Linked DNA regions of Homo sapiens: region 2 is linked to region 1. The links come from fine-mapping of genetic effects on gene expression. A gene starts in region 1. The other region holds a variant in brackets. All regions are shown on one strand. Distances are between the middles of the regions.

Evidence for each region. PIP is the estimated chance that this variant, and not a neighbour inherited with it, causes the effect.
Region 2: its variant is the best candidate, but not a certain one, in a credible set for the expression of LIG1 in whole blood (INTERVAL, PIP 0.86).

Annotation. Positions count from the first base shown.
Region 1 is chr19:48,164,852-48,174,976 of GRCh38, forward strand. LIG1 (DNA ligase 1) reads right to left here and starts at 5,493. Exons shown (of 28, transcript NM_000234.3): 1 at 5,390-5,493; 2 at 699-772. The coding sequence starts at 715. It overlaps ZSWIM9 (zinc finger SWIM-type containing 9), which reads left to right and starts at 5,829. Exons shown (of 4, transcript NM_199341.4): 1 at 5,829-5,863; 2 at 6,943-7,226. The coding sequence starts at 6,952. RefSeq lists silencers at 4,932-5,001, 5,032-5,081, 5,882-6,021 and an enhancer at 4,975-5,634.
Region 2 is chr19:48,184,017-48,197,769 of GRCh38, forward strand. ZSWIM9 (zinc finger SWIM-type containing 9) reads left to right here. Exons shown (of 4, transcript NM_199341.4): 4 at 10,637-13,604. The coding sequence ends at 12,811. Among named protein-coding and RNA genes, the nearest start is that of ZSWIM9, 20 kb to the left of the region's middle. RefSeq lists enhancers at 2,727-2,786, 12,498-13,010 and a silencer at 4,380-4,612. The variant T/C (reference allele first, on the strand shown) is at 10,214.

The sequences.
Region 1 (10,125 bases):
GTGTTGTTGGGGGGGCTGTCCTATGAATTGAAGGATGTTTAGCAGCATGCCTGGCTTTTAGCCACTAGATGCCAATGGCAAACCCTCTGTCCCTAGGTTGTAACAACCAAAAATATCTCCAGACACTGGCCGGGCGCCGTGGCTCACGCCTGAAATCCCAGCACTCTGGGAGGCCGAGGTGGGCGGATCACGAGGTCAGGAGTTTGAGACCAGCCTGACCAACGTGGTGAAACCCCGTCTCTACTAAAAATACAAAAATTAGCCAGGCGTGGTGGCACGTGCCTATAATCCCAGCTACTCAGGAGGCTGAGGCAGGAGAATCACTTGAACTCATGAGGCGGAGGTTGCAGTGAGCCGAGATTGCGCCACTGTACTCCAGCCTGGGTGACAGAGCAAGACTCCAACTCAAAAAAAAAAAATCTCCAGACGCTGCCAGATGTTCCCTGGGGAGCAAAATTGCTGCTGACTGAGAACCACTGCGTTAGGGTTTCTGCTCCTTGCAACTAAAAACTGTTGTTCAATACACTGTCTTCCATATCCCACGGCTCATTTTCCATACTACTTGACTCCTGGAAATTCCAACTCAAAATCTAACGTAAGAGTTTTTGTTTGTTTGTTTGTTTTTTTAAGTACAGATTTAGAGAAAGAAACAGAGGACTTGGAGAAGGAAAGACTCAGGGGCAAGGGAGGGTGCTCACATGATACTTCGCTGCATGTTGGCGTCAGAATTCTCCCTTCCTGTCCAGCACTTTTCTTCGTCTGTCAGCTGCTCCTGGAACAGAAATCCAAACACTTGTTGAGGTGATTGGTTGTGCAGAGATCTAAACACACATAAAACCCTTTCTTTAAGAAAGAAAGAAAAAAAAAAACAGAAACATGAATTTCCCCTTCAAAAAGAAACTCCTGTTTTTATGAACCAAAATAATTTGCTGGTGAGATTTACTGGTGCAGAATAAAAGCTCCAAATCAGAGAAAAAGATAAGAGGCCTCCTTTACCATAAGAAGACTGTTTTTCATCTAATATGAGGAATAGACTGAGGACCTGAAATGGGTTTTTTTGGAGTTAAGTTTAAAGGTTAGTGAAAAATTGTTTTAAGGTGATGACATAATTCCGTGAAACAACTGTGGAAGCTTATAAAATTGTACCCGCTGGTCTACATAAATTAGCTCTTGGGCAGTTTCTAAGGTATGCTGTTATTTCAAACAAAGGGCAGAATATCACAGAGTGTGTGCTACTGAACTGTGTAAAAGAGAAAGGCTATAGGTCAGGCACAGTAGCTCACGCCTGTCATCCCAGCACTTTGGGAGGCCGAGGTGGGTGGATCACTTGAGGTCAGGAGTTCAAGACCAGCCTGGCTAACATGGCAAAACCCTGTCTCTACTAAAAATACAAAAATTAGCCAGGTGCGGTGGCACGCGCCTGTATTCCCAGCTACTCTGGAGGCTGAGGCAGGAGAATCGCTTGAACCCGGGAGGTAGAGGCTGCAGTGACCCGAGATTGTGCTACTGCACTCCAGCCTGGACAAGAGTGAAACTCCATCTCAAAAAACAAAAACAAAAGAAAGACTATAAATGTATCCACATATCTTGTATATGTACAGAACATCTCAGTTGGAAGACAAAAAACTGGTAATGCTGTCGCCTCAGGAGGGACAGACGCTGGAGGGAGATTTTTTAATATGCATGCTTTTGCAGGCAGAACAATTGGAATACGTTACCCCTTCACAATATATTTTTAAAAATTAAATACTTTTTTAAAAAGTCTGTTATTTAATGAAATCAATAACAGTCACTGGGGCTTCCACAGTTTAGAGTAACTCTAATGAAAGGGTTCCTAGGCCGGGCGTGGTGGCTGCTGCCCATAATCCCAGCATTTTGGGAGGCCGAAGCGGGTGGATCGCCTGAGGTCAGGAGTTCGAGACCAGCCTGGCCAGCATGGTGAAACCTCATCTCTACTAAAAATACAAAAATTAGCCAGGTATGGTGGTGCACACCTGTAATCCCAGCTAGTGGGGAGGCTGAGGCAGGAGAATCACTTGAACCCAGGAAGTGGAGGTTGCAGTGAGATCATGCACTCTAGCCTGGGCAACAGAGTAACACTCTGTCTCAAAAAAAAAAAAAAAGAAAGAAAAAGAAAGAAAAAGAAAAAGAAAAGAAAGGGTTCTTAATCTGGGGTCCACAAAACCCAGGAGTCCAAGAGCAGAACTCAAGTGGTCTATGAAATTTGACAGGAAAGAAATTACGACTTTATTCTTGTAAACTTCTAATTGGAACTGAGCCTTTCCTTCCATTATAAATATTAAAGATATAAAAAATTATAAATTTTCTATATCTTTAATATTTATAATGGAAGAAAATAAATTACACATTATAATTATGTAATTATAATTATTTACATTATATTTCCTTCCACTATGAATATATTTTTTAAAAAAGGACTAGCAGGACCTCTGCGTGGATTGCTTGAGTTGAGACCAGCTCAGACCAGCCTGGGCAACAGAAATGGTTTTCTTTGACTTTCCCTTCCTTTGCACAGAAATCTTCTTCAACCCATGGGGTCCCCTTTCGTTTTCTGGAATCAGTACTCTCTGTCCCGCACCACACGCCTCTAAGTCTCCACTACTCTCTACAGCCTTGGCCGCCACATGTTGGCACCACAACTCAAACTCAATTTTGGAATCAAAAAACTCAGTAGGCCGGCACTGTGGCTCACGCCTGTACTCCCAGCACTTTGGAAGGCTGAGACAGGCGGATCACGAGGTCAGGAGTTCAAGACCAGCCTGGCCCGCATGGTGAAACCCCATCTCTACTAAAAATGCAAAAAATTAGCCAGGCATGGTGGTGCCAGCCTGTAATCCCAACTACTCAGGAGGCTGAGGCAGGAGAATCACTTGATCCCAGGAGGCAGAGGTTGCAGTGAGCTGAGACTGCACCACTGGACTCCAGCCTGGGCGACAGAGCGAGACCCCGTCTTAAAAAAAAAAAAAAAAAAAAAAAAACAAACAAAAAAGAAACTCAGCAATTTCCAAACAGAGTTTCTCAGGGCCAGTTGGGGAGCAGGAAGTAAGCAATGCTTCAACCAAACAGTTCACACAGAAAGCAGGTTAGGGACTTAGCCACCAAAATCCTGAGGGCAAAGGAGAAAACTATTACGATCCCTCCTGAGTGCTCAACTGCCTAGGTACTTGACATTCTCAATTATACTGACTCTCCACAACAACTCTGTTACAGAAACTAAGGCACAGAGGGGTTTTCAAAGGAACTTAACCTGCATCTATAGTACGTTCCACCCCAGGTCGGCCTGCTCCACAGCTCACCTCTTAACCACCAGACTGAGTTGCAAGGGAAGGAGAAATACATAAGCGTTTACTGGGAAGCCTACTCTATGCCTGACAGGCTGATCACATTCTCAAATACCCTCAATCCTCAAGTCAGCCCTCCAAGACAGGTGAGATCATCCCCACTTTATAGATGAAGGTAATGAGGACAGAGGAACATAGCTGGGGTTCAGGCAAGGCTTCAAAACCCGGTGTGGCTGGCTCCAAAGCCCACGTTCCTTTCTCCTTACCACGGTACTCAAGGCTGGCTTCTCAACTCTGTGTACTGCTGAGTTGGGGGGAACAAACTGGTTGATGCCTCTGGAGGACCACCTGGCGTCTCTATCGGAACGGCAACCCCACTTCTGTGTATTTGGCCCACAGAGACCCTCACAGGTGGACCAAGTGAGGCACAAAGTTACCTGCTGCAGCACTAACTGTAATGAGAGAAGACTGGAAACTGGTGGAATGTCTACCCTTAGGGAACTGGTTCCCTCATTACTGGAATACCATATGGTAGAATATTGTTCAGGGTTAAAATTAAATGAATGATGGATAAAAGGTATAGGAGTTTTTTGGGGGGATGATAAAAATATCCTAAAATCGATTATGGTAATAACTGCACAACTCAGCGCATACACTGAAAACCACTGACTTGTACACTTTAAATGGGCACTTTAAATACACTGAAATACACTTTAAATACACTGAAAACCGCTGACTTGTACATTTTAAATGGGCAAAATTGTACACTTTAAATGGGCAAACTGTATAATTGTGAATTATATCTCAATAAAGCGGTTACCAAAATGAAGAGATAATGACAGGAAAAATATCAAGTAAGGATGAAACAGTACTCAGTAATAAAAAGAAACGAAGCACTGATACAAGCAACAACTTGGGTGGACCTCCAGGGCATTGTGCAGAGTAGAAAAAAGGTAACATCCTAATAATATATGATTCCATTTACATAACAATCTCCGAATGACAAAACTAGAGATGGTGAACACATTAGCGGTTGCCAGGGGCCTGGGGAGGAGTTCTTATGTGGAGAGGGAACTGTTCTATATCACAATTACGATGGGGGTTACACAAATCTATACAAGGAATCAAGCTGCACGGGCACACAGATGCACAATCACACTCACACCACACAAACTGGTGAAAACTGAACAAGGTCTGTAATCTAGTTAACAGAACTGTATTGATGTCAATTTCCTGGTTTCGATATTGGGACTACATAAGATGTCACCATTAGGGGAAGATGGATATACTCTTTTCACAACTTCCTTGAATCTATAATTATTTCAAAATAAAAAGTAAAAACAAGAGGTAAGCTCCATCCCTTTATCAAGCATACATTAGGCCAGACGTCTCCCCATTCAGATGATTCTCCATCTTTTACGAGCCCTTTACCTAGACCTGGACCTTACCACTGACCTCTCCCTGACACCACCCATCTCCCTCCAGTAGGGCCCACTCCTTCCAGGTGATGCTGCTGCCCGCGATTTACCTTCTTCTAGCCCCGCCCCCTCAGCACTTCCAGGTGGCCCCCGCCCCCTCAGCACTTCCGGTTCCCAGCCAGCCCCACCCTTGGCACCTCCCCCTTCCAGGTGGCCCCGCCCACACGCAATCTTTTCCCCGGCCCCGCCCCTTAGCTCCCTTCAGCCCCTCCCCCTCCCAGATAGCCCCGCCCCCTCGGGGGGCCTTCCGATTTCCAGCTGGCCCCGCCCACACAGTTTTCCCCCCCCCGGCCCCGCCCCTCAGTTCCATTTGGCCTCTCCCCTTTCCAGGTGAACTCGCACCTCAAGGCCTCTTCTCAGAGGACCTGTCCAACTGTCTCTGTCTCTCGTCTACCCTCTACCTGGCCCCCCTCCCTCTGGGAGACACCTCTCTGCACTCTCCGGCGGCCCGCAGCCCGCGCTCTTCCGTCTCCACCGCGCTCTCGGCAGCCTCAGCGTCCCCACGCCCACTCCTCTGCAGACACCCCGACATGGCGAAGCATAGGCCCCAAGCATTCGGCGCACCCGCCGCCCTCCGCCTCCCATCTGCTTGCGGACGGCCCCACTTGCCTTGCGTTGGTCCCGCGCGCCGCTGCCCGGGCAACACACTCAGATCCGCCAGGCGCGCCTCTGCAGTCCCAAGTTCGCGCCACGGCATTCGCGCGCAGACGTCTGCGGGCGGGGGCGGGGCAGAGCCTAGGGGCGGGACCTGGGCACCGTCCGCACCGCCGCCGTCGCGCGGAGGACACTGGGAGTCGTAGTCTCCCGAATGGGAGGAGGGCGGGAAAAGGGGTGAAGTGGGGCGAGCCCTCCCGCAGAGCACACTGGGAAAATGCCCGCGCTTTCCCTCGCCCTGGATGAGCGGGTGTGGCTGAGGGTCTGAGGAGTGACTGGCAGGGAAAGAGGAGGAATCGGTGGAAGCGCCCCCGCGAGGCACGGCGGGAAGAGAGGCGGGAGACCGCGCGGGGCATCCCGGGAGCAAGGGCCGGGCCAGGCCTGGGCGCGGGGCATTGTGGGAGGTGGACGCCGCTCCGGGGCGGGTAGGTGAGTGGGGAGGGGCGGGAAGGGTGCACATCTTGGGGAGGGGAGAGGCACAGCTAGGTGGGACGGCGGGGCTGGAAGGTGCCGCAGCGGGCGGGGAGGGGGGGAGTAGGAGGGTCGGGAGCGGGCTGGATGGGGCTGCTCGAGGGGAGACGCGCAGCTGGACGTGGGGGGAGCATCTGGGGTGAAGGAGCCCATCCGAGGACGAGGGGCCATGTCTAGAACGAAGATGCATATTGCGGGGGATGGTGGATGTAACTGGGAGGAGGGGCCCACAGCTGGACTGGGGGCCGCATCTGAGGAGGAGGGGACCACAGGTGAATACTGGTGACACTTCCGAGGAGAACTAGCCACAAGTGGGGCACACACCTGTAGGCGAAGCGTGGATAACTGCATGTGGGGAGTACATCTGGAGATGAGAGTGTCTCAGGGAAGCCCCAGCTACAGCTGCATGTGGCGAGCCATAGGGTCATAATCGGGGGAAGGGGCAACAGCTGCACGCCAGAGGCACATCTGGGGAGTGCGGAGCCACAGGTGCATGAAGCATGTGACCGGGTGAGGGGTCCGTGGCCTGGATGTGGGAGCACATCTGGAGATGGAGCGTCTTTGGAGGGGTTACAGCCAACTGTTGGCACATGGAAGGAGGAGTTCCAGATGAATACGAGAGTTAGAAGTTACTCTTGGGTGAGAGACACAGCTGGAAGGGGAGGAGGTTTTAGCTGGAATTTGAGAACACATTTGAGGAGATGTCCTTAAGGGACATCTGAGCTTAAGGGTCGTATTTTGGGAGGAGAGATTCCAACTGTACCTAAGGGTCACATCTGCGGAGGAGGAGACGAGTTGGAATTAGGAATCAAGATGACAGGCTCCAAGTGAACCAGGGATAAGGCGGTGGGAGGAGGCCAAAGATAGGATGGAGGTTGATATTTATATATTTGGAGAAAAACAGGCACGTCCGACCCCGGGCTACCCACCTCGATAGAGGCACCAGCAACCGACGGGGCAGGCCAAGAATGGAGTAGATGAGATACCCCGGGTGGGAATGGGTCTGATATCCACCTGTTCTCCCCTCCTCCACGCAGGCCCCCAGGATGGAGCGGCCGGAGCCCCCACCCGGCACGGCTGCGGGGCAGGAGGAGCAGGAGCTGCGGGAGCGGGCCTTCTTCTCGTGGGCCGAGTTCAGCCGCTTCTTCGACGCGTGGTGCCAGCAGCGGCTGGCGCTCTTCTTCGTCAAGAGCTCCATGCACCTGGCGCGCTGCCGCTGGGCCAGTGCGCCCCCGCTCTACACGCTCATCGACGTGCTCAAGTACAGCTACGTGCGGCTTGTGTGCAAGGACGTGCGTGCGCCCAGCCGGCCCGCCGTGGGGTGCGTGAACCTGAGCCGCTGTCCTGCTGGGGGGAAGGGGAGCACCGGGGGTGGGTGTGGGTGGGAGACGGGCAGAGAACACCCCACCCAGAGATGCAGAGGGGGAGAGGCCAACTGAGGCAGCCAAATACACCTTGCAGAGAGGCGGGAGTCAAGGAGGGACATGTACTGAGAGAAGAAGAGGAGCTAGAGAGACAAAGATACTCACGGAGCAAGAGATGGTGTGGGCCCGACTTACAGACTTTTTTTTTTTTTTCGAGATGGAGTCTCGCTCTGTCGCCCAGGCTTGAGTGCAGTGGTGCCATCTGCAGCCTCCACCTCCTAGGTTCAAGTGATTCTCCCGCCTCAGCCTCCCGAGTAGCTAGGACTACAGGCACCTGCCATCATGCCCGGCTAATTTTTGTGTGGTTTTTTGTTTTTGTTTTTGTTTTGTTTTGCTTTGTGTTGTTTTTTTGAGACAGAGTCTTGCTCTGTCACTCAGGCTGGAGTGCAATGGCACAATCTCGGCTCACTGCAACCTCCACCTCCCGAGTTCAAGCGTTGTTTCTCCTGCCTCAACCTCCTGAGTAGCTGGGATTACAGGCACGCGCCACCACGCCTGGCCAATTTTTGGATTTTTGTAGAGATGGGGTTTCACCATGTTGGCCAGGCTGGTCTCAAACTCATGACCTCAGGTGATCTGCCCGTCTTGCCTCCCAAAGTGCTGGGATTACAGCCGCGAGCCACTGTGCCCGGCCTGACTTACAGAATGTAATAGAGACTTCGAGAGGCAGAGCGTAAAACACACACACCCCAAGAGGAGAAAATAGTCACGGAAAATTCCAGAAACATGGAGACATGGAGGCAGAGACACCAGAGACAGCCAGGGAAACAGAAGAGCCAGGTTTTGTACACGTGACAAAGACTGGGAGACAGAGACTGGGAGACTGAACTGCAGAGAAGCCGCAGGATAAAGAAAAGGATCCATCTATTCAGTGAATAAGGGGCCAGGTCCCATGCTGTGGGCTGGGGATATTCTAGTTGGAGCGATGGAGTTGGGCAAGAGACAAAAATCCCTGCCCTTCTGGTACTTTCTGACTGGACAGAAAGATTGACGTTAAAAGAACAAGCTCACAGGTAGTTCCCTACAACTGTGCAAAGAGGGGCAGGTGAGAAATCCAGGAGAGCCAGAATCACACCCAGGTGGCCAGGGGTATTTTAATGGACCCCAATTGTATTTTATTTAGTCTTTATTTTTTTGAGACAGGGTCTTACTCTGTTGCCCAGGCTGGAGAGCAGTAGTGCGATCTTGGCTCCCTGCAACCTCCAACTCCTGGGTTCAAGAGATTCCCCCACCTCAGCCTCCCAAGTAGCTGGGACTACAGGTGTGTGCCACTATGCCCACCTAATTTTTGTATTTGTAGTAGAGATGGGGTGTCACCATGTTGGCCAGGCTGGTCTCGAACTCCTGACCTCAAGGAGGCTGAGGTGATCTGCCCACCTCGGCCTCCCAGAATGCTGGGATTACAGGCATGAGCCACCACACCCAGCCAAATTGACCCCAATTTTATTTTACTTTATTTTATTTTATTTTATTTGAGACGGAGTCTTGCTCTGCCATCCACACTGGAGTGCAGTGGCACAATCTCCACTCACTGCAACCTCAGCCTCCTGGGCTCAAGCAATTCTCCTGCCTTAGCCTCCCCAGTAGCTGGGATTACAGGCATGCGCCACCATGCCCAGCTAATTTTTGTATTTTTAGGGTTTCACCATGTTGGCCAGGCTGGTCTTGAACTCCCGACCTCAGGTGATCTGCCTGCCTTGGCCTCCCAAAGTGCTGGGATTACAGGTGTGAGCCACGGTGCCTGGTCTGACCCCAGTTTTAAACAGGGGTTGTTCCCCACACAGTTAGGTTTCCAGCTTCCACTGGAACACCGGAAGAGGTGAGCCCATGTTTCCATTGGCAGACGGCCACCCCTCTTGGATGGGGCTTTGCTGCCCAGGTTTGCCCCAAACCCTGCCACTCTCTGCTGCCTCATCCCTAGCACTGTCTTTTGCTTGTTTTGCCTGCCTGGTCCCAGTAGGTGTGTGAGTTTGAGACCCTTGGTTGGGGAGCTGTAGACAAGAACAGAGTGCTTAAGAACACAGGCTCTGCCTTTAGGCTGCCTGAGACATGCTCCACGACTTCCTGGATGGGTGACTTTGGGCAATGGACTTCACATCTCCAAGCCTCAGTTTTCTCATCCTTTGAAATGGGGTTATCACGATACCCGCCTCATGGGGCCATTGTGAGGATACTGTGAGATCATACATGAGAAAAACACATAACCCTGGTGCCTGGAACATGGGGTGGCTGGTTAAGTGATAGCTGTTACAGGATTCGAGAGCATGGACTCTGGGCCATTGTGCTGCTGATGCTTGGTGGATGCTGTTGAGTGAGTGACTTCACCTTTCTGTGGCCTCAGTTTCCTCATGTGGAAAATGGGAGACATAATAGTGTCTATCTCATAGGTAAATTATTCAGAAAGGCATCCAGCACAGAGTAAGCACACTCTTAACAGCTCTTTCACCGGTAGTTATTTAAACATGTATTGTGAAATACATTCTTGCAACTTCTTTCTCACTACTTATTCTAGAAACAGAGACTCGGAGATCTGAAAGTGGAACAGCATCAAACACACACATCACCCAGAAACCTAGAACGTTAGAGCTTGCAAGAAGCTCAAAGAAGCTCAGGCCTAATCTGAAACCTATTAACAGAACCCAGTTCCAATGTAACAAATGCTTATTGAGCACCTACTATGTGCATGCCCTTCACTGGACGTTTAGAATCCGAGACTGATCTCGGCTCTTGAACAGTTCAGAACTTAATGGGGTAGACAAAGACCAAAAAACAAAAAAAAATTATAGATAGTGGCCC
Region 2 (13,753 bases), 21 kb after region 1:
GAATGTTCTCAAGGGGAGAACACACCTGAACCCACCATGCAGATGGAGAATTAGGAGAAGGAAGAGTGCTATGTCCTGTAATGTGATGGAGCGATAAGTTATCATCAAGGAGAAAAAGGCCGGGGCCTGGAGCGGGACAGTTCTAAGGGTGCTGTTTGAATTGGTCAGGGAAGGTCTCTTTAGCAAATGATGGTGAAGCAGAGGAGATGGAACAGAGGCAAGGGACCCTCATTCTGTCATCAGAGGGAAGAGAATTCTAGGCAGAAGGAACAGCCAGTGCAAAGGCCCAGAGGCACGAGCAAGCTTGTGTTGGAGGAACAGTGAGGATGGCTGCTGCTCCATAAGGAATCTCTGCGGCTTTAATCCAACTTCAAGTTTGGGGTGAACTTGAAGTTTAAAGAGGAAAGAAAGATGAGAAAGTAGGGGAAGAACTGGTTTCTCCTCCTGGCTGTGCCTTTGTCTCCCTTGTGTGTGGAAGAGGTCCCAAGGCAGGGTAAAGTCGAGATTCAGCTCTGGCACACTCTTCCTGTCTTCATCTCATGCCCAGTAAGAAGCCCTGATTCAAGCCACCAGCCCAAGCCCAGGCCTCTGTCCCGACATAATAATAATTTTAGCTAATGTTTATCAAGCACTTACTATATGCCAGGCACTACCCTAAGTGCTTTACATACTATAACTCATTTTCATCTCACCTGAGCCCTATGAGGAAATAGTCCACCATTCTCATCCCCATTTTACAGACAAGGAAACTGAAGCACAGAGAAGTCAAGTAACTGGCTCAAAGTCACACAGCTATTTAGTGACAGAGCTGGGCTTCGGACCCACACAGCCTGGATCCAGACCCATGACCTTCACCATGGGGACAAACACACATGCACTTCCTACTCCACTGGTCTTTGCTGATCTAGTAACTCTCCTCCACTACCCACCATGACATAAATAAGCCTCAGCTGTTCTTCCCTGAACCCACCCTCTGCAGGATTGTCCCTGTGCAGAACAGCTCATTCATAGATCAGAGCCTTCCCTGGAAGGGGAGTTGTCTTTTCATTTTGAAGGCTGTCTTGGAATCTCGGCTAAACCACGGTTGGCTCCTGCGTCTGTGTTTTGACCTGCTTTCATACTTTTTTTTTTTTTTTTTTTGAGACGGAGTTTCGCTCTTGTCACCCAGGCTGGAGTGCAATGGCGGAATCTTGGCTCACCGCAACCTCCGCCTCCCGGGTTCAAACGATTCTCCTGCCTCAGCCTCCTGAGTAGCTGGGATTACAGGCATGCGCCACCATGCTAATTTTTGTGTTTTTAGAAGAGACGGGGTTTCTCCATGTTGGTCAGGCTGGTCTTGAACTCCTGACCTCAGGTGATCCCCCCGCCTTGGCCTCCCAAAGTGCTGGGATTACAGGCATGAGCCACCGTGCCCAGCCCCTTAATGCTCTTGAAAGAAAGGAGGAAGAAGTTCTAGGACAGGAGAGACAGATTAGTGAAGCAACATTTAAATATTTACTTTTTGAATATGTCATACATTCACATGGTTCTAAAAAAGGTATGTGGTGAAAAGTCTTATCACATCCTGTCCCCCAGGTCCCCTCCCCTGCAGAGTTATTAGCAGCTTATAAATCATATCTCGCTTTCTATCCTATGGACCAGCACTGCCCGGTGGAACTTTCTACAATGATAGAAATGTTCCTTATCCAGGCTAGGCATGGTTACTCACACCTGTAATCCCAGCACTTTGGGACTCTGAGGCAGATGGATCACCTGATGGCAGGAGTTCGAGACCAGCATGGCCAACATGGCAAAACCTGATCTCTACTAAAAATTCAAAATTAGCCAGGCATGGTGGCAGGTGCCTGTAATCTCAGCTACTCGGGAGGCTGAGGCACAAGAATCGCTTGAACCCAGGAGGCAGAGGTTGCAGTGAGCTGAGATTATGCCACTGTACTCTGGCCTAGGTAACAGAGTGACACTCTTGTCTAAAAAAATAAAAAGAAAGAAAATGGTTCTTATCTGTACTGTCCAATCCAGAGGCCACTGGCCACACATGGCTACAGAATGCTTAATGAGGCCAGTATGACTGAGGAACTGAATTTGTCATTTAATTTATCGAAATGTAAACAACCTAATGTAGCTAGTGGCTTCTGGATTGGACAGCGCAGCTCTGCACATATACAGGTCAATTTGCATGTCTGTATGTTTAACTTTAATTTTTAACTTTATTTCCTCTTTCTGCCCCGCCACCCCCCACCCCCAGCAAGCAGGGCAGCCTAGTGTACACGCTGTTTTTGTTTGTTTGTTTGTTTGTTCTTTGAGACAGGGTTTCACTCCTGTCACCCAGGCTGGAGTGCAGTGGCACGCTGTTGGCTCACTATAACCTCCACCTCCTGGGCTCAAGTGATTCTCCTGCCTCAGCCTCCTGAGTAACTGGGACTATAGGCATGCACCACCATGCCTGGCTAATTTTTGTATTTTTAGTAGAGACGAGGTTTCACCATGTTGGCCAAGCTGGTCTCAAACTCCTGACCTCAAGTGATCCACTCACCTTGGCCTCCTGAAGTGCTGGGATTACAGGTCGGGGCCACCACACCCGGCCTGTACATGCTGTTTTGCATCTTGCTTTATACGTTGGGGAGTGCCAGATGTCACCATCTTTCGTTCTTCCTCTGGGGCTGGTCAAATCCCCCTGAGAAAACTCCTCTGGCCTCCTGGCGGGGGGTGAAGGCCAGGCTGCCAGGGCCAGGCTGCCAGCTTCTGGGAGCTGCAGGGGCAGAGGCAGGGAGCTGTCAGGCATTCAGCCAGCAAGACGCACTCAGTACCCACTTGGGGTTCAGAATCCCCCTCCCTCATCTTCAGATGGGCCAGATGTCCCCAAAGCCAGCGGCCCCTTTCTGTTTCACCCTGTCTACAGAATAAACCCCCAGTCACTGGGGGTGGGGGAAGAGTAAGGGGAGAGGGGAAACGAGATTTGGAGGTCTAGCTGCTGCTGAAACAGCCCTCAGTTCGTCTTTATTTTGCCTTCTGCAAAACTGGCCTGGTGTTGCCAGCTCCTTTTGAGGACTTTGCTACCGGTTCTCAGCATCCCTCAATTGCTGGCTTAGGATTCATGGGTTTTTAGGGGTGGGGTGGGATTAGCATGTCCAGCTGCTTTCCAGTTTCCAAAGTTCTGTCCCTATCATATTGCCTCTGATTTAAAAAAAAAAAAAAGCCATTTTAAAAAAAAGATGTAATTGAGGTTCAAGAGAGAGTGAAACTAGAGAGGTGTTCAATCCATCACTTTTACACAGAAATTTCACCTTTTTTTCACTTATAAAATCTAATGAAAGAGTTCTATATTATTATGTTAATAATACAGTAGTAATATAACAGTATAATGTAATAATTAATATATTATATTAATTATATATTATAATTATATATTATATTATATTATATATATTATATATTATATATTAATTATATATATTATATATATTATATATTATATTATAATATATTATATTATATTATATATATTATATATTATATTATTATTATATTATATTATATATATTATATATAATATTATATATATTATATATTATATAATATAATATTATATATTATATTAATATTATAATATGTAACGCATAACATGTAATATTGATAATATAATAGGTGCGATGGCTCACACCTGTAATCTCAGCACTTTGGGAGGCCGAAGCGAGAGGATCACTTGAGCCCAGGAGTTCAAGACCAGCCTGGCCAACATAACGAGCACCTGTCTCTACAAAAAATTAAAAAAAAAAAAATTAGGCATGGTGGCATGCATCTGTAGTCCCAGCTACTCAAGAGGCTGAGGCACGAGGGTTGCTTGAGCCCAGGAGCTTCAGGCTGCAGTAAGCTATGATCACACCACTGTACTCCAGCCTTGACAACAGAGTGAGACCCTTTAAATAGATAGATAGATAGATAGATAGATAGATAGATAGATAGATAGATAGACAGACAGACAGCAAGCTTTAAATTTTCATCCCAAGCCTAGGTCAAGCAACAATCAGTCTTTCCACTTCCCAGCAGTCTTCCAAAGGAAGGATTATTTGTAAAAAGTGCCTGCACTTCCTGAGTTGGGTTGCTCTCTTGATCTTTGGAGGGGATCAGACAAGAAGGATGCGCCCAAAGCCACAAGGCATGATTTAAGGGCAAGACTGGGGGGCGACTTCACCCAGGGAGGTGTTAATACCTTTTTTTTTTTTTGAGATGGAGTCTCGCTCTGTCTCCCAGGCTGGAGTGCAGTGGCGCAATCTTGGCTCAGCACGACCTCCATCTCCCAGGTTCAGGTGATTCTTGTGCCTCAGCCTCTTGAGTAGCTGGGACTACAGGCGTGCGCCACCAGGCCTGGCTAATTTTGTGTGTGTGTGTTTTAGTAGAGATGGGGTTTCATCATGTTGGCCAGAATGGTCTCGATCTCCTGGCCTGGTGATCTGCCTGCCTCGGCCTCCCAAAGTGCTGGGATTACAGGCGTGAGCCACCGCACCCAACCTTTAACACCTTTTATCACCTGCCCTGCCTGATGATGATGGGCTTTGGGGTCCAGTCACATCTCCATTCCCTCACTTGTGGCAGGCACCAGGGTAACCAGCAAGCAAGCCCTGAAAAGAGAGACCTTGCCCGGAAACGTTGCAGCGTTCTCTTACGTGTATGCTTTGCCTTCTGAGAATGGCGAGCATTGATGCAAGTGTATCCCTTTTAAGAATACTCAATGGGGCCAGGCGTGATGGCTCACACCTGTAAGCCCAGCACTTTGGGAGGCTGAGGCGGGTGGATCACGAGGTCAGGAGATCGAGACCAGCCTGGCTAACATGGTGAAACCCCGTCTCTACTAAAAATACAAAAAATTAGCCAGGTGTGGTGGCAGGCGCCTGTAGTCCCAGCTACTTGGGAGGCTGAGGCAGGAGAATGGCGTGAACCCGGAAGGCGGAGCTTGCAGTGAGCTGAGCTCACACCACTGTACTCCAGCCTGGGTGACAGAGCGAGACTCCATCTCAAAAAAAAAGAATACTCCATGGGAAGCTGGTATGATCTCAGTGGAGGGCAATTTAGCAATATCTATCAAAATGACAAGAACACTCACCCTTAGGCTCACAATCCCACTACTGGTGATTTATCCTGCAGATGTAGTTGCACAGCTGTGGAAGGACTTACTTACAAGGTTAATCATTGTTGTTTGTGAAAGCAGCAGATTAGAAACAACCCAGACTCCACCAACGGGTAATGGTTACATAACTTGTGGTATATCCATCCATGGATTACTACACAGCACTAAAAAAGAATGAGAACTTTGGGAAGCCGAGGCGGGCAGATCACAAGGTCAGGAGATCAAGACCATCCTGGCTCACATGGTGAAACCCTGTCACTACTAAAAATACAAAAAATTAGCCAGGCATGGTGGCAGGCACCTGTAGTCCCAGCTACTCGGGAGGCTGAGGCAGGAGAATGGTGTGAACTCAGGAGGCGTAGCTTGCAGCGAGCCAAGATCGTGCTACTGCACTCCAGCCTGGGCGACAGAGTGAGACTCCATCCTAAACAAACAAAAAAAAAAGAATAAGAACAAGTCTAGGAACTATTTTGAAAGATCTCTCAAACACATTTTTAAGTTAAAAAAGCAAAATGCAAAACTGTACATAATATGCTGTATTATCTATAAAATAGAGCAAATAAGAATTATAGGTATGCTTACTTGTACTCATATAAAGAAACTCTAGAAGAATACCAAGAACTGTGGATGAGGGTAGAATAGTGAATGGAAACTGACTGATTAGACTAAAGAGGTGGGAGTAAGACCTTTTATGTATCGCTTTACATTATTTGACTTTAGGACCATGTGGATGTTTGCATATTCAAATAATTAATTCTTAAAAAGAAGATGAAAATAGAAGGTGGGCGCAGTGGCTCACACCTGTAATCCCAGCACTTCGAGAGGCTGAGGTGGGTGGATCACTTGAGGTCAAGAGTTTGAGACCAGCTTGGCCAACATGGTGAAACCCCGTCTCTACTAAAAATACATAAATTAGCCAGGCATGCTCGTGGGTGCCTGTAGTCCCAGCTACTCGGGAGACTGAGGCAGAAGAATCACTTAAACCTGGGGTGGCGGAGGTCGCAGTGAGCCGAGATCATGCCACTGTACTCCAGCCTGGGTGACAGATTGAGACTCCATCTCAAAAAAAAAAAAAAGAAAGAAAATTAAGCAATAGTCCCAACATACTAAACGCATTTGTTTCTCTCCTCAAAGGAAAAATTAGAGGGCGAGTTATAGAGGGTCTTGAGGTTGTGTGAGTCAGGATGGCCTAGGTTTTGCTGTAATAATGAACAGCCCTCAAATCTCAGTGGCTGAACTCATTGAATTTTATTTCTTGCTCACTTACACAGCCACCACGGGATGTTGGGGGAGTACTGTTTATCTGAGTCATTCTGGGACCCAGGAGGATGGGCATTCAGCCCAACGTAATTACCATATCTGGCAGCGGTGGCTGCGAAGGCTTCTCCTTGGATGCGATGCCGCAGCTCCCTCCCACTCACACTTGATTGGCCAAAGCAAGTCACATGACACTGCTTACCTGCAAGGGGGCAGGGAGGTGCAACGCTACTAAGTGCCCGGGAGAGGGAGAACTGCAATTTCTTGGCAAGCGGCAAAAGATAACCACAGGGTACTGTTTCATCAAGGGCCGCCCAAAGCCCTGTCTGAATATGGGGCTCGTGTTTCCCCTGCTATGTAGTTACACAGGCCTCCTGCAGCTTAGTTTCAGCTTTTCTAGTTTTTCATGGCTCCCAGAGGGAATATTTTCTATGCCGTATAGCCTGTTTTCACATGAAGCCATTTTGGGGTGTTATAGTAACAGCTGGTGACTTGATTTTATTTATGTTGCTATGTGCTGAAAGCTTTATGAATGTTCTGGCTGTGCCAGTTACTAGCTGTGGGACATGGAACAAGTTATGAACAACCTATTTACCTTCTCCAACCCTTAGTTCATTTATCTGTAAAATGGGGATAATACTATCTTATAGGGCTGTTGGGGTTGTTGTGTGAGAAAGTGCAGTGTGTATGTGTATGTGTGTGTGTGTGTGTGTGTGTGTGTGTGTGTGCAGAATGGGTAGAACCGTGCCCAGAAGTAGGAAGCCCTGCATATGTTCAATATTTAGCTATTATTTTGTTGTTGTTGTTTGTTTGTTTGTTTTTTTGAGATGGAGTCTCTCTCTGTCGCCCAGGCTGGAGTACAGTGGCACAATCTCGGCTCACTGCAGCCTCCGCCTCCCGGGTTCAAGCAATTCTCCTGTCTCAGCCTCCCAAGTAGCTGAGATTACAGGCGCGCACCACCACGCCCAGCTAATTTTTGTATTTTTAATAGAGGTGGGGTTTCACCATGTTGGTCAGGCTGGTCTTGAACTCCTGACCTCAGGTGATCCACCTGCCTCGGCTTCCCAAAGTGCTGGGATTACAGGCGTAAGCCACTGTGCCCAGCCTTAGCTATTATTTTTATTCCTTCAATTTTTTCTTTGGGGCAGTCTGGAGAACAGTTTCATGTGAACATTCTGATCACATGGAAAAGGGAAGGTTTACTCACGTGTCGGAAGAGGTGTGAATGGAAAGTAGTAAAGGCATGGTTTCTGATGTTCATGTTTGTGGAATCTGTCGTCTATGGCAGATGCTTCCCCGTGCTACCAATTTGTGTGTCTGAAAGGACACCCGTACATTCATCTGCATCCTCAAAATCTGTTCCTCCGTGGGTTTCTCCATCTCTGCAAAATGCACTGCTGTCCACTGTGTGCCTAAGCCAGCCCTGTTTGGTCAATTTTTTGAAGGCTGTAGGGTAGAGTGGTCAGGAACAAGAAGCCCTGGACCCAAGCTGTCAGGGTTCAAATCCCAGCTCACCTGGTATTGCAAATCGCATGGGTGACTCCAGGCAAGCAACTGAAGCCGTGTGTGCCTCGGTGTCCTCATCTGAAAAAGGGGAATGAGAATCATAGTATCTATCTTACAGGGATATTGTAAGGATGAAAGATTAGCTGTTGGAACTGTGCCTGGTGCAGAGAAACTACTTCATGTGTGCTTTGCACACCCGAAACCTTCTTTTTTATATTTATTTATCCTTGGCCTGGGGGCTGTCTCCTCTCACTCAGTGGTGTGTCTCATTTGTTCTCCTCTGTGCCTGAGCCAGCACATGGCACATCATATTTTCTCAGTAAATATCTGGCAGAAAAATGTATTCATCAGCCTGGCCAACATGGTGAAACCCCATCTCTACTAATAATACAAAAATTAGCCAGGCGTGGTGGCGGGCACCTGTAATCCCAACTACTTGGGAGGCTGAGGAGGAAGAATCGCTTGAACCCGGGAGGCAGAGGTTGCAGTGAGCCAAGATCACGCCACTGCACTCCAGCCAGGGCGACAGAGTGAGACTCTGTCTCAAAAAAAAAAAAAAAAAAAAAAAAAAAAAAAATATATATATATATATATACACACACACACACACACACATTTACATAGCCCCGCCTTCATCAAATGTCACCCTGCCCCTTAAAATGCCGCCCATGCATGTTCTCCCACCTACTGCTTTTGTTTCCAATCATTCCTAATGGCCCGGATCTATTGGATCCCAGCATCACTGCTTGTTAGCGCAGTGGCCTTGGGCAAGTCACTCCTCTGGTGCAGATGGGGGTCCCTAAGACCACCCTCAGTTTCCATGATTCACTAGAAGGAATCACAGAACTGAGAAAAATTGTTATAGTCAAGGCTACAGTTTATTACAGCAAAAGGATACAGAGTAAAATCAGCAAAGGCAAGAGCCACACAAGGCGACCCCATCAGTCTCTCTGATTCCTTAATTATCTAACAGCAGCACATAGGGCAGAGGCCAAGAGAGACCAGCATGAGCTGCCAGATGTCGTCTCTCAGTGAAGTCCCATGGACAGTGCTCAGTTCTCCCAGCAATGACATGTGACAACAATGATGTATTGCTAGCCAGGGACACTTACTTGGGCCTTGGTGTCCAGGGTTGTTATTGGGGTCAGCCATGTAGACTTGTGCTGAATACTGCTGAGAGATCGAGACAGACGGTAAGAACGGCTGAGAGCTGATGCACGCCAGGTGTCCTTCCATGCGTTGGCCAGGAGTGATCTCATTTTAGCCCATCCATGACCCTGTTAAATAGACATCTCCATTTTTCCAGACAAGGAACCAAGGCTCATTGAGGAGAGGTCACTTGCCTGAAGTCCCACGGCTAATAGGCAAATCCAGGAGTCTGATCCTTAAACCTCCACCCTTACAGATGTGGCCTTGGACATGGCTGCACACCCTCGCGTGAGTTCACTCACTCAGGATGTATTGAGCCATTGTTCCAGGGCAGGTAGCATTCAAAGCATCAGGGGTGCTGTTATAGCCAAGGCTACAGTTTATTACAGCAGAAGGACACGGAATAAAATCAGCAAAGGGAAGAGCCACATAGGGCAGAGGCCAGGAGAGACCATCCCGAAGGGGAACATCCCTGTGCTTGTGGGGCTTCCATCTTAAGGAGGGCAAGCAGGCAATGGGCAGATCAGGAAACGAAGATATGACTTGCCAAAGGGTGGTAAGTGCCATGGCCAAAAGGAGGCAGAGAGAGATGGGGTGTCTGCTTAGTTGGGAAGTCACAGAAGAGCGGGACGTGATGTTTGAACAGAGACGATAATTATAATGGCCACTTTCAGAACACTTACTATTTGTTGGATAAGTAATAACAGTAATATATGTACCAGGCAATGTTCTAAATGCTTGAATGCATCTCATCTTTCCAATCACAGAGATGCTCTTATTATCATCACTTTACAAATGAAAGGGAGGTTAGGGAAGTTGGCAGAAGGCACACAGCCAGGAAGCAGGGGCTCCAGGATCTCAGCCCAGGGATCTTGGCCTCAGAGGCTATGCTTTTCACCACTGTCCTGCCTCTCAGTGCATGGAGAAATGAATGTTCAGTGCCTAGAAGGGATAATCAGGGAATATGGAGGTTAAGGAGGCAACTGAGGCACAGAGAGGTTAAATCGCAGGGTTCAGAAGTGTTGGGGGTGGGACTCAAAGCTAAATGATCTGCCTCCACAATCTAAGCTCATTACCACCAGACCAGTCATCCTTAAGCATGCATAGGAGTCCCCTGGAGGGCTTGTCAAACTAGATTGCTGGGGCCCGCCCCCAGAGTTTCAGACTCAGTGGGTC[T/C]GAGGTGGCCCCGAGAAGGTGCATTTCTGTCCAGGTCCCAAGAACCGATGGTGATGCTGCTGGTCCAGGGCCCACATTTTGAGACCCACTGCCCTAGACTGCCTCTCAGCACACGGAGGAATGAATAGCCAGCTTCCGGCGGAGGAAACTGAGGCTCAGAGAAGCTAAAAGTGTCATGTGGAAAAAATCACATAGCCGTTAGACTGTGGTACCTGGATCTCAAACCCAGGCAATCCGGCTCCAGAGTGTTTTTAACCATTTCCCTGCACTGCCTCCTGCCGGTCAAAAGAATAAATGCATATGCAGGCAAGAATGAATGGGTGGTCCCATTTCCGTAGAAGGGGAAACCGAGGTCGGGGAGCTGGGCGGGGAGACCCCAGCATCCTCTGACCTCTTTCCTTGCCTCCCTGCCCCCGCCCGCAGGTGAAGCTGGTGTTCGTGGAGGACCAGGCTGTGGTGGAGACGGTGTTCTTCCTGACGTCGCGCACCAGGGCGCTGCTGCGGCGCTTCCCTCGCATGCTGCTGGTGGACCGGCTGCCGGGGCTGCAGGGCGCGCTGGATCTGCTGGCCGTGCTGTGCGTGGACGGCTCGGGCCGTGCGCGCCAGGCTGCCTGCTGCGTGGCGCGCCCGGGCACACCGAGCCTGCTGCGCTTCGCGCTCGCGTCGCTGCTGCAGAGCGCGCCAGACGTCAAGGGCCGCGTGCGCTGCCTCACCGCCGGGCCCGAGGTGGCGGCGCAGTTGCCTGCAGTGCGCCAGCTGCTGCCCTGCGCGCGCGTGCAGATCTGCCGCGCGCAGGGCCTGGAGACGCTCTTCAGCAAGGCGCAGGAGCTGGGCGGCGCCGGCCGCGAGGACCCGGGCCTGTGGTCGCGCCTGTGCCGCCTGGCTGGCGCGTCGTCGCCCGCAGCCTACGACGAGGCGCTGGCCGAGCTCCACGCCCACGGCCCAGCCGCCTTCGTGGACTACTTCGAGCGCAACTGGGAGCCCCGCCGCGACATGTGGGTCCGCTTCCGCGCCTTCGAGGCGGCCAGAGACCTGGACGCGTGTGCCCTGGTGCGAGGCCACCGCCGGCGACTGCTGCGTCGTCTCAGCCCCTCGCGTGGCGTGGCGCAGTGCCTTCGCGACCTGGTGGCCATGCAGTGGGCCGACGCGGCCGGGGAGGCGGTGCCCGAGGGGCCCGATGGCGGGGGGCCTTGGCTGGAGGATGAGCCAGGGAGGGGAGCCCAGGGGGAGAACGAGAGGGTGAGGGGCCTGGAGACAGGCGACTGGGGAGGGGCTCCGAAAGAAGGAAGTATTTGGAGGGGAGCCCAGATGGAGAAGGAGTGGGCAAGGGCACTGGAAACCAGAGACTGGGGCGGGGCTCAGTTCGAAGGTGAGAAGGGGAGGGCACTGCAGATCAGAGATTGGAGAGGGGGTCGGTTGGAGAATCAGAAGCCGAGGGGACTGGAAGGGGGTGTCTTGAGAGGGTCGAAGTTAGAGAAAGGGCACCTGAGAGGGCCAGAGATTAGAGACTGGAGGGGGCCCCAGTTGGAGGGTGAGAAAGATTGGGGACTGGAAGGTTATGTCTGGAGGGGGTCCCAGTTGGAGGACCAGGCGCTAAGAGGATTGGAAGGGTATACCTGGAGGGTGGCCCAGCTGGAAGATCGCAGGAGTACCACCGACCTGAGGGGGACCCAGTTTGACTATGAGAGGGTCAGGAGTCTTGAAGGAAGCCCCTGGAGGGGGGCGCAGCTGCACGATGAAAGGGCAGGGGGACTGAGAACTGCAGAATGGAAGGGGCCACAGTCAGAAGTAGAGAAGGGGAGGGGGCTGGAGGTCAGAAACTTGAGGGGGATCCCCTTGGAGAAGTCCCTGGAGTTGGCCCCTGAGAACGGAGACCAAAGGGGACCCCAGTGGGAAGATGAGAGGAGGAGAGGGCCAGAGATTGCAGAGGAGAGGGGAGCGAGGGTGGGGGTCAAAAGAAGAAGGGGCCTGGAGGATATAGTTCTGGTCCAGCTGGGAGACACGAGGGTCACAGGCATGGAGAATGGAGATGGAGGGGGAGCCCGGTCCGTGGGCCCCAAGAGCCGAGCCGGACGAGGGATGGAGTGGGGAGACGCAGGAGGGCGGTGTCTAGGGCTGGGGAATGGAGTCGTGTCTGGCACCCCGGTGGGGACTGTATTGGAAGGCAGCCCAGAATGGGCAGCGGCGAGGAGTGAACACCTGGCTGCAGGTGACGGCCTGCAGGAAGGAGGCGAAGATGGCCCCAGGGAACCAAAGAGGCTTTGCCGACCCCCGGGAGAGGAGGAGGTGGACTGGGAACCCCTGGCCAAATTCCGAGCAGCCTGCGGGCCAGAGCTGGCAGACCTGGTGGCTGAGGAGTTGGCCTTTGCTAGGCAGCATGGGACCCGGGGTTTCCACTGGACCGGAGCTGGCTTTGCCCTTAAGGACGGCACCTCGGACTTCTTCCTGGATGGGGCCCTGACACGCTGCAGCTGCTCAATTCACGCCGCCCGCCGTCTGCCCTGCAGACACCTCTTTGCAGCGCGCCTCCTCACTGGGGCTGCCTTATTCCACATGGACCTGCTCAGGGATTGCTGGGGGAGAGCCCCAGAGCCCTGACCCTTCATGCCTCTGCCCACCACCCTCCACCAGGAGGGTCGGAGGGCATTCTTCGATCCCAAAGATAATAGGGCTGAGGCCAAGGAGACCGTTGCAGTCCCCCTGGCCACCTTCTGGGTCATCCAGGGACCTCCTCATGGCAGTTTGCCTCTCTGGGTCCAAGGGCAAGCTGTAAGTGGTCTCTGAGGTCCTGGAGCCACAGCTTGGGAAGGTGTTGATGGGCAGGGTGGATTCTGAGGGCTTCCCTCTGGAGAGGAAGCATGTGATGAGAGGTGTAGACAGGGTCAGGCTGGGACAGAAGGAAGGAAAGGGGCAGAGCTGGGGGGAGGGGGAGGAAGCGATCATATGGGGAGTGTCTGGCAAGAGTAGACTGGCCAGTCTAGGGAGTGCAGCGGGGAGAGGGGAAAGGGAGAAAGTACAGAAGACAGATGAAGGAGAGGAGGTAAGCGAGAAAAAATGGAAAGGGGAGCCGGAAATGGAGGAGAGAGGACAAGCAAAGAGACAGAAATGAAGACATGAGGAAAAGCTGGGGGAAGCAGGAGAGGAAGGGACGGGATGTAGGAGGGGGAAGAAAAATCGGAGATGAGACAAAAGAAATGTGTGGGAGACGGGTAGAGACGAAATGCAAGGGGCGTGGTTTTGGTTTTTCTCCAAGACCTGGAGACATCGACCCCCATCGCCTTCTGAAGAGAGAGGGAGGGCGGGCACTGGGGGTCAGGAGAGTCTCCAGCAGGGGAGGGGAATTGTTTGGACTATTGTTCTTCAGGATTGGAATAAAACAATCTTATTTTGGTTTCCGTGATGAGTTCTTGGCTTCTGGGGTTGGTTGGGAGTCCCAGATCCAGGGAACAGTTGAGATGGTCCAGCGTTCCTTCATTCTTTCTACCGACAAGGCCTCCTGGGGCCAGATGGATAGAGGAGCCACAATGAATTCATCTCCAT